Regions from separate parts of the Homo sapiens genome. Here region 2 is linked to region 1. Evidence: fine-mapped expression QTL. A gene starts in region 1. The other region holds a variant in brackets. All regions are shown on one strand. Distances are between the middles of the regions.

Region 1 (5,370 bases):
CACATGTTGGCTGGCAAGAATGTGGGTGAATTCCTGTTAAGGGGCGCAGACACTCCCTCTTCTATGACCTTTCCTTTCCACCCAGAACAACTGAAGTATCATGATAAGAGGAAGGGCTTTGTGTTTGAGATAAGCAGCTCCTATACCTGTCAGCTTTCTCTAATAAGAAAGCTCTTTCCTGCCACCGTATAGGTCACCTTCTTATTGGTAAAGCATGATGAAGTTTGGAAACTGTTGTCCTTGTTTTGTTGAAAGAAGCCAAGTTCCAAGAAATCTGCAGAGGCATTCCTACAATCCCTCAGCCATGGCAGCATGAATCCTGAAGGGGCAGTGAGTGCTGGTTTCTACTCTGTCTGCACAGCTAAGCCTAGGGGAGATAATCTTTTCATACAAGATGCATTCTGCTTTTGTGGGCCTCTTGCAGCCCTCAAGCCCCCATCTGATTTGTACACAATGATCCAGTGGGCCAGAGGAGCCCAGAGCCATGAGCGGCCCATCCCTCCAAGAACTATTTCTGACTGTCCAGTATCATGGAGCAAGTGGAAAGAAGAAAAAAAAAACCCAATTACTTTTCGAAGAGCAAGATGAATGCTGTAGAAGGAGAAGGAAGGGGAGGGAGATGGATGGGTGCCGATTCCAGAATCTTCAGATCTGCTTGGATGAATCATTACCTATGATTTGCGGGACAAGAATCTGATTTTATTCATCAACCAGTAGAAACTTTTCTTTCTGCCTCCCAACATCTGAAATCCAACAAACATGTGCCTTAGGAACATACCGGTCATCTTTTAGAGGCATTTTATATACATATTGAGTAACTAGAAAACACTCTTTCCGTAATACACACACACACACACACACACACACACCATCTTGTCATACAACACTCCCACGCAAGAAAAGCGAAACTGCTGTTTGATGAATGTAAACACTTGGCTGTTTGCAGCAGTCGGGAGTCCTGCCAGGTTTAAGTGCTAAGATGGGAGGTGAACCCCAGGGGTTTCCCCCTGCCCGTGCTGAGATCCTTATTTGGTCAAGCTTCTACCTATGCCCTGGCCTCGGAGCGAGCCCGATAGCGCTGGATCACAGCAGAGGGAGCGAGGCGGCTGACGTCCCATCCCGAAGAGATGAATGGAATTCCAGGAAGCTAGAGTCATGCTGGCTTGGGACAGTGGCTTGGAGACCAGACTTCAATGACAGAAGCACTAGGCAGCGGCACTCATGGCAATGTGTGCACCCACAGAAATGTAACCCACACCTCGGGTTCAGGAGCCGAAAAATGAAAAGAACGTTTAGGGAGGAAAAAGGGAAATACAATAATAGGCAGAGAGTAATTTATTACTCTATGGGTCTGCTCTGTAAATAGCTGAAGACTCTGGAGCCAGATGGTTCTGCAAATTCTCCAAACAGGAGTCACGTTAAGAAGCACGAGTGGGCACAAAAACTGTTTTTCAAGACACAATTTCAATTTGGCTTGTGGAAACTGGATACGAGTAAGTTTCCTTAAAATTCGAGTAGAAAGCAGCTGTCCTCCCCGGGCCCCTTGATGAGAATACGCACACCGCCCCCAAGCGGCCGGCCGAGGGAGCGCCGCGGCAGCGGGAGAGGCGTCTCTGTGGGCCCCCTGGCAGCCGCGGCAGGAAAGGGCCCGAAGGCAGCGAAGGCGAACGCGGCGCACCAACCTGCCGGCCCCGCCGACGCCGCGCTCACCTCCCTCCGGGGCGGGCGTGGGGCCAGCTCAGGACAGGCGCTCGGGGGACGCGTGTCCTCACCCCACGGGGACGGTGGAGGAGAGTCAGCGAGGGCCCGAGGGGCAGGTACTTTAACGAATGGCTCTCTTGGTGTCCCCTGCGCCCCGTCGGCCCATTTTTCTTTTTACAAAACGGGCCCAGTCTCTAGTATCCACCTCTCGCCATCAACCAGGCATTCCGGGAGATCAGCTCGCCCGAAAGCCCCTGCGCCACCCCGCGGGCCCTCCTAGGTGGTCTCCCCAGCCCCGTCCCTTTTCGGGATGCTTGCTGATCACCCCGAGCCCGCGTGGCGCAAGAGTACGAGCGCCGAGCCCGTGCGCGCCAAGGCTGCGTGGGCGGGCACCGACTTTTCTGAGAAGTTCTAGTGCTCCCAAGCCCCGACCCCCGCCCCCTTCACTTTCTAGCTGGAAAGTTGCGCGCCAGGCAGCGGGGGGCGGAGAGAGGAGCCCAGACTGGCCCCCACCTCCCGCTTCCTGCCCGGCCGCCGCCCATTGGCCGGAGGAATCCCCAGGAATGCGAGCGCCCCTTTAAAAGCGCGCGGCTCCTCCGCCTTGCCAGCCGCTGCGCCCGAGCTGGCCTGCGAGTTCAGGGCTCCTGTCGCTCTCCAGGAGCAACCTCTACTCCGGACGCACAGGCATTCCCCGCGCCCCTCCAGCCCTCGCCGCCCTCGCCACCGCTCCCGGCCGCCGCGCTCCGGTACACACAGGTAAGTCGCCCCCGGCGGCCGCCGAGGACCAAAGCTGCCCGGGACATCCACCTGGAGCGCTGAGGCTTCAGTCCCTCTGGTGGACCCCGGAACCTACACTCTCCCCGCTCGCCTACCCCAGCCCGCTCCTCTCAGCCGCTGGAGGACTCTTCAGGGCAAGGCTCCAGAGCCATCCTCTCCAGCCTTGAGGTTCACAAACCAACTCATCAGGACACCCCAAGATTTCCTTACTCTCTGAAGTCCTCCTTAAGCCTTTGTATCAGCACTCCAGGGAAGAGTCTGTACTTCCCCTGCCCTCCCTGCAACCCCAAACTACAGTTCCTGATCTTGCTCACCTTCGACTTCCCAAAAGCCCCCAAATTGTTGGTCTTGCGCCCCCCACACTTTAAAACCAGCATCTCTTTCCTCCACCTCTCTCTCTCTCTCTCTCTCTCTCTCTCATGCTCTCTGGAAAGTAATCCTGTTGTCCTTCATTTCAGCAAACGCGGGGTCAAAGAGGGATGGTCCCGGCCCTGTCCCCATGCCCAGCCCCGTTTCTGCGCACCGTCCCTCCCTGCCTAGCTGATCTCTGACCCTCGGCTCTTGTGCTTCCTGCTACAGGATCCCTGCTGGGCACCAACAGCTCCACCATGGGGCTGGCCTGGGGACTAGGCGTCCTGTTCCTGATGCATGTGTGTGGCACCAACCGCATTCCAGGTGAGTTTGTGTGGCACCTTTAGGGGAAGGAGGGACAAGGAAGAGGTGCTGGCTATCCCAGGTGTGCCCCCTCACGTGCTGTCCTCTCCCTCTTGAGCCTGACTGGACATCAGGACGCAGCTTCACTCTGATCCTGGTATTTATTCACCTCTTTCAGTGGTTGCCAGGAGTTTTCACCCCAACCCTTTGTCTCCACCCCTAAGGACTCAGCCCCCTACTGCTGGTCCCAGCCTAGAAAGCTCACTTTGTGTTCTCTCCTGTCTAACAGAGTCTGGCGGAGACAACAGCGTGTTTGACATCTTTGAACTCACCGGGGCCGCCCGCAAGGGGTCTGGGCGCCGACTGGTGAAGGGCCCCGACCCTTCCAGCCCAGCTTTCCGCATCGAGGATGCCAACCTGATCCCCCCTGTGCCTGATGACAAGTTCCAAGACCTGGTGGATGCTGTGCGGGCAGAAAAGGGTTTCCTCCTTCTGGCATCCCTGAGGCAGATGAAGAAGACCCGGGGCACGCTGCTGGCCCTGGAGCGGAAAGACCACTCTGGCCAGGTCTTCAGCGTGGTGTCCAATGGCAAGGCGGGCACCCTGGACCTCAGCCTGACCGTCCAAGGAAAGCAGCACGTGGTGTCTGTGGAAGAAGCTCTCCTGGCAACCGGCCAGTGGAAGAGCATCACCCTGTTTGTGCAGGAAGACAGGGCCCAGCTGTACATCGACTGTGAAAAGATGGAGAATGCTGAGTTGGACGTCCCCATCCAAAGCGTCTTCACCAGAGACCTGGCCAGCATCGCCAGACTCCGCATCGCAAAGGGGGGCGTCAATGACAATTTCCAGGTGAGGCTTCTTCTCTGAGCCCTGCTCCGTGGGATCATCTGCTAGACAGGTGACCTGCCAGGAGGGCTACAGGAAATCCTGTCTGTAAACTAACGCAGCAGTTCTCAGATTTTAGGCAGCATGAGCATCACCTGGAGGGCTTGTGAAAGCTCACCCTGCTGCACCCCAGCCCCAGAGTCTGGGATTCTGTAAAACTGCAACTCTAACAAGTACCAGGTGATGCTGATGCCGGTGGTCTGGGAAGCACACTTTGAAAACTACTCAAGGAAACAAGAAATGGTTTTCCTTTAGCAGTCAGCCTGTTCAAGCCTTAGATACTCCTTAGGCTCTTAAGAAAAGAGCTTATTTCAAATGCATTCCCCCAATTTTAATCTTGTTTGAAATGGATACTTTCTATGGGCAGAATCAGTACCACTTTGCTATTGGATTCCTCATGGGGATGCAGCTGGTCTCACATAAAAGGTTAAAATAGCAGTTAGTTGTTGCTGTTACAGCTTCATCTGTGCCTTAACTTCTAGATCTTTGCAACGGTGGCTTTGAACTCCCACATTTAACTCTTTGACACTGGAAAGTGTCATTATATCCTCTAGGCTTAGGATCAGATTCCATTTCCTGTGTACCCAAGTAGGCTGATAACTGAATTCTTTGTAAAATACTCAAGACTTGGCAGAAGTCACAATTAAGATTTTGAAGTTGTTTGGCGATTAATGTTGCTGTGTTATTTTGACATAGTGATCTTAAGACAGCTCTTTGAAGCTTTTAGAACATCTATTGTATGCTTTTCCTAGCATACAGACAGTCTCCCCCAACCCCATCCCCACCCCGCTCTGCATTCTACAAGTAATGTGTGTCCTCTGCCCACAGGGGGTGCTGCAGAATGTGAGGTTTGTCTTTGGAACCACACCAGAAGACATCCTCAGGAACAAAGGCTGCTCCAGCTGTGAGTACCCCTCTATTTTTAGGGCACATAGGGAATCAGGGGGAATTCCACCAAAAACAAACTGAGGAATTTAGCAATAGTGGTTATACATAAATTACCCCCAGTGAGATCATCAAGAGGCATACAGAAGTGACTCCAAGGGGTATTATACACACACACGTATACACACGTGCGCATACACGCAACCCCTCTACCTGCATCCTTCACACCAAATGAAACGTCTTCTACCACTAAGAACTCAAGAGGCTGGTTGGTAAGAGTATCTATTTGAAGTTTTCATTTTGTTTCTTGCCAGCTACCAGTGTCCTCCTCACCCTTGACAACAACGTGGTGAATGGTTCCAGCCCTGCCATCCGCACTAACTACATTGGCCACAAGACAAAGGACTTGCAAGCCATCTGCGGCATCTCCTGTGATGAGCTGTCCAGCATGGTCCTGGAACTCAGGGG
Region 2 (5,370 bases), 230 kb before region 1:
GATTCATAAACACGTAATTCAAAAACTATTTTCTATAAGCAAAATTGACAAATGAGATTTCCTATCACAATTTTAGGTTACTTCCCTGATGGATAATGGCTGCAACATTCAGAAAAATTCACAACTAATTTAAAAAATTACATTACACCTTATTTTTCAGAAAATCTAAAACATAATGGTTTTTAGTTTCCATGATGATTTCAGTTGTTTCTCTTCTGGAAAGCTGACGTCTTTGGAAGAATCAAGCTTCCTAATTAGATTGTCATCTCATTTGTGACAAGCACTGAGGAATTTTCAGATGATAATTGAGAGTCAAAAAGGCCACAACATTTTGCAAAGGTTTCCAGGCTGTGTGGGAACATCATAAAAAGATGGTTCTTCTCAAAGCTACTGAGATGACTACCAAATTTAAAAAAAAGAAGACAATAAAATAATCCAGACAGATTCACAGAATCCTAGTGGGGACTCATTTCTCTAGGACCAGAGGAAGGTCATGCCAAGGATCGCGTATTCTCTATTTTGCCCTCTACCTTGGAGGTAAGACAGCAGTTTAACTGGGGCCAGTGGGAAAAGAGGTGAGAAAAAACCAGGGCAGGTCTGAAATGTGGACATGAACATCAATGGGGCAAGGGACAGGGTGCAACTAGGCAGGCAGATCAGGGTCCCAGCATTTGTGTCCAGTCCATATGGTCTGATGTGAAAAGAACGACAGAAGAAATATCTAGGCCGTGGTGAAATACAGGTGTCTGGAATTGGCACAGTCTGAGAATTTGTGGGGAGACGATTTTAATCTAATTTAAATTAGGATCCTAGTTATAGCTAAGTGACCCTGGGCTAGGGTCTAGCTGTTGGGAAGAAAAGCCTAGAAAACACTAGCTGAGGTTCAGCTACTTGGGTGTTAACCTGGGTAGAGGCTGAATCCCCAGCATAGAGTAAGCAACATTGAAAGATGTAGGAGGTGAGGATGAACTTGGTGAGCAGCCAGGAGAAGACCTCACCCTAGACATATGGGACCAAGAAGTCCAGCAGCAAGGCCAAATCCAGAACCCAATCATTGGGAGAAAAGTGTGAGTAATTTCTAAGTCATGATCCTTAATTCTGTGCTCTTTTTTATAGTTTTATTTTTCTTTCTCATGGAACTCAGTCTGATGTATTCCATTATTATTACCCGACTAATTACTCCAAATGAATATCTCACAGCCTGTTCTAACAAGCAATGTCCTACACTCCTTTCCAAGACTTGTTTATTTCTTTGCTTGCTTGCTTTATTCTCTAACTACAAACTAGACACTTCCTCTGGGATGTTCCACCATCATTTTAAACTCAACATGTCTTCTTAAGCCAAATGCAACACCTTCCTTTCCCTTCTGTCTTAGTCTATGTCTGCTGCTATAACAAACTGCCTTAAACTTGGTAATTTATAAACAACAGAAATTTCTCATAGTTTTGGAGGCTGGGAATTCCAAGATCAAGGTCCAGCAGATTCAGTGTCCAGCGAAGGCCCATCCCTCATAGATCGTACAATCTAGGTGTCCTCATATGGCAGAAGAGGTGGAAGGGCAGAAGAGTGCTCCCTTCGACCTCTTTTATAAGGTCCTATTCCCATCTGTGAGGATTCTGCCCCCATAAGTTAATCACCTCCTAAAGGCTCTACCTCAATATTATCACGTGGACAGTTAAGTGTCAGCATATGAATTTTGGCAGACACATTCAGACCACAGCATATTCCTTTTTTCCTACCCCTCTTCCTCTCTCCCCAGCTTCTTTGTTCTGTTACCGGTATCTCCATTCTGTCACCCAACTTCAAAATCATGTAGCTATACTTTTGCCACCTTCTTAAAATAACCCAGAGTCAGAAAGTTCAGCATTCATTCATTCAAATATTACACTGAATGCAAAGTTAGACAAAACTTCATTTCAGATACTGTCCCCTCTTAGAAATGTACCTTCTTTCTGTTCATTTCTGCTTATTCCCACCACTATACACTCAAGGTCTTCATAACATGTATCCAATTATTGCAAAAGCTTCATATCAGGCCTCCATGATTCTGATTTCTACACCTTCTAATTCATTCATTTCTTTACATTAATTTTAAGGTACATTTTCATGTAGGCACTGCATTGTAATTCCCTGGTGCTTACCTGCCCCCGTCTCTAAACTCTATGCTCTTTAAGGGAAGGCCCACATTAATCTCTCCTACCATCATATCCCAGAGCCTATATCAGGATATGAAATACAATAGCTTCCAAGAAAATTTATTTAATGCTTGAAAATGTTCAATATCTCCCTGTAACTTGTTGCATCAAACCTCTACATCTCTGCTTAGTTCTCGTGTGGCCACAGATTGTCTATTTACCCATACTGCCCATTTCTTCACCACCTGCTCCCTCTGTATTCCTCAGGCTTATTTATTCACTCTATGCTAATTCCCATCTTCACTAACTTATCCCCACTGTCCTATTGCCTGAAATGCCTGCCTTTTCCCTCCCTTCCAGAGGGCCTTGACTCTGCACTCAGCTGCAGCAGGTTTTCCA[G/A]CTAAAGAGGGCAGTTGCAGAATGACAGCCATCCCTCTTCCTGCCTTCTCAGAGAAGCGTTCATTGCCCCCTCCCTTTCCACAGTGTCAGAGCAAGGACGTGCTCTCTCCCTCCTAAGGTTTTGGCAACTGAATGCAAGTCTGTCAACGATGCAAAGGGAGCCAAAGGGCAGAAAATAAAACCTGTCAGAGGCTACAAAGAGGTCCTTCGTCCAGCACCACCCCACAACCCCCAAGTTCAGCAGGGCAGGAGGGGAAAAGGGCAAGGAGGCTCACAGACTCTGCTACACCAGAGGTTAGCATTCATTTGCTTCCTAATTCCCCAGCCAACCTGCTTCTTGGGTAAAAATTGTGAACTTGGCAAACCTGTATTTTGTCAACAACGGTTCTTCAATCCCCTCAGCATTATTACCATCTGAAAGCTAAGAAGCTGGAACAGCTTTTCAGGGATGCAACAGGCTAGAGGCAACTGATCATTTCAGATACCCTTCACCTGTGGGTTAAGGAGGCCGGAGCCACATCCCAAACATCCTTTGCAATTGCCATAAAGCATAAGTTTAATTAAAACATTTTGTTACATGCCGTCTCAAGCACCAAACTCTGCAAGAGATTCTAAGTATAGAGAGGTGAAGAAGAAGTGGCCTCTGGTGTCGCAGCAGCCCTGGCATCCCAGCACATCCACCCACGAACTCAGTTACAAGCCCACAGAAGGTTTCCCATCACCACGTTTGTCCCTCTGGGGATAAACTCCCTCTAGAACCCACTTTCTTTGCCTCTCTGACCTTACTTCAAGCCACTTCTGTAGAGTTCTAGAGCTTTTTTTTTTTTTTAAAGACAGTGGTTCTGTCACCCAGGCTGGAGCTCAGTGGTGTGATCTTGGCTCATTGCAACCTTTGCCTCCCAGGCTCAGGTGATCCTCCTCCCACCCCAGCCTCCTGAGCAGCTGGGATTACAGGCATGCATGACCACACCCAGCCAATTTTTATATTTTTAGTAGAGACAGGATTTTCGCCATGCTGCCCAGGCTGGTCTCGAACTCCTGACCTCAAATGATCCACTAGCCTTGGCCTCCCAAGGTCCTAGGATTATAGGCGTGAACCATGGTGCCTGCCCCAAGATCTAGATTTTCTTATGCACTGCCCATCTTGCCGACTTAATGTTTTGCATTGTTCACTTCTTCCTTAATTCCGAAAGCTCTCTTTTGACTTTGCACTCTGATTCCCCTTTGCCTCCAGCTTCTCCCATACAGAGTCTTATAGGTCTTATTCTCCCATACAGATTCTTACAGGTCTGGCTATCAGAATCCAGGTCTGATGATGACTGCACAACATGGTTGGACTTAATGCCACTAAGTTGTACACTTAAAAAATGGTTAAGTGGTAAATGTTATGTTATGTTTATTATCACAATACAACATATACATATATATATCCCAAGCCCAGCCGGAGCCCCTAGACCTGGCCCCGGCAGCAGAAGCCATCACCTGCTGTGAAGGAACTCAGACTCAAATAGGAGATACACAATTTAACATCCATTAATTGAGGGAGAAATTACTGACCATCTACTACACGTTAAACACTGGGAACTGAGAATTCAGGGAAGACCATGAAAAATATACTACTGTCTTTATGAAGCTTAATCTAGTCTGGGACATAGTCATCAAGCAGACAGGCACAAAATTAAGTAATTCATTAAAATACTAATAAATGCAATGAAGGGAAGTACAGGGTCCTATGAAAGCACAGAGCTGGAGGATGGGGCTTCAGAGGAGACTTCCCTGAGAAAGTGACCTTGACACTAAGAAGTGAAGGACAAGCCATCATTTCCCAGGCAAAAGGGGTGTGGTGGGGATGGTGAGGGTAGGGCATTCAGGCAGGGAGAATGGCATGTATAAAATAAAGGACCTGTCACAAAAGGTAGGAATTAATGTGGTTCTTTTGAGGGACTGCTAGAAGCCAACATAGGGCCCAAGCAGAGAGGCACAAGACATCAGGCCAGCTGCCTGACACAAGCTCCAATAGCCTGAAGCACTAAACCTCCATGAAGAGTTAATGGCTCACATCTGTAATCCCAGCACTTTGGGAGGCCAAGGTGGGCAGATCACCTGAGGTAAGGAGTTCGAGACCAGCCTAGCCAGCATGGTGAAACCCCTCTCTAATAAAAATACAAAAATTAGCTGGGCATGGTGGCACATGCCTGTAATTTGGAGCTACTTGGGAGACTGAATCAGGAGAATCGCTTGAACCCAGGAGGCAGAGGTTGCACTGAACCAAGATCGCGCCACTGCACTCCAGCCTGGGTGACAGAGCAAGACTCTGTCTCAAAACAAAACAAAAAAAGAGTTAAAATTTGGAGGGAATCAGAGACTTTGAAATCAGAGGACGAAATTCCAGGCATTCCAGGCACAGAGGCTACCTGAGCAAAGGTTCTAACGTGGGAAATGCTGAGGGCATTTGGGGACAGGAAGTCGTCCTGTTTTAATGAAGTTCGCACGGGAAGGATAAGGAGAGGAAAATGGTGGATGTGAAAGATAAGAAGCAAGTTAAATAGAGTCCTTCGTCAGGATGGTTGGTTCTAGAACCGCAGGTAGGAGTGGCCTCCCCGGCTCTCACCTGTCTTCTCCTACCGCTGAGGGATGACCCTGCAAACCAAAACACCAGCTCTCAATCACTTGTAGAAAATCAACACCACAACTGAGAGGGACACAGCTCTCCAAGGCCTCAGGAGACAGCGCCAGAGGGAGCCCTCTCCTCGGGTTAAACAGTTTGAAAGCAGTAACAAAATTAGCCAAAGAGTTCAAATGATGGCAGGCTCGGGGGCCTTGGGGCCAGCACAG

The links.
Region 2: its variant is fine-mapped to the expression of THBS1 in whole blood (INTERVAL, PIP 0.99).

What each region holds. Positions count from the first base shown.
Region 1 is chr15:39,578,772-39,584,141 of GRCh38, forward strand. THBS1 (thrombospondin 1) reads left to right here and starts at 2,308. Exons shown (of 22, transcript NM_003246.4): 1 at 2,308-2,457; 2 at 3,058-3,153; 3 at 3,422-3,981; 4 at 4,846-4,921; 5 at 5,217-5,370. The coding sequence starts at 3,087. It overlaps LOC124903470, which reads left to right and starts at 1,036. Exons shown (of 1, transcript XM_047433405.1): 1 at 1,036-2,223. The coding sequence starts at 1,547. The coding sequence ends at 1,981. RefSeq lists an enhancer at 1,399-2,136 and silencers at 1,559-1,788, 1,799-1,848.
Region 2 is chr15:39,348,356-39,353,725 of GRCh38, forward strand. All of the region lies in intron 1 of LOC105370777 (a long non-coding RNA gene), which reads right to left. Among named protein-coding and RNA genes, the nearest start is that of LINC02915, 100 kb to the left of the region's middle. The variant G/A (reference allele first, on the strand shown) is at 2,536.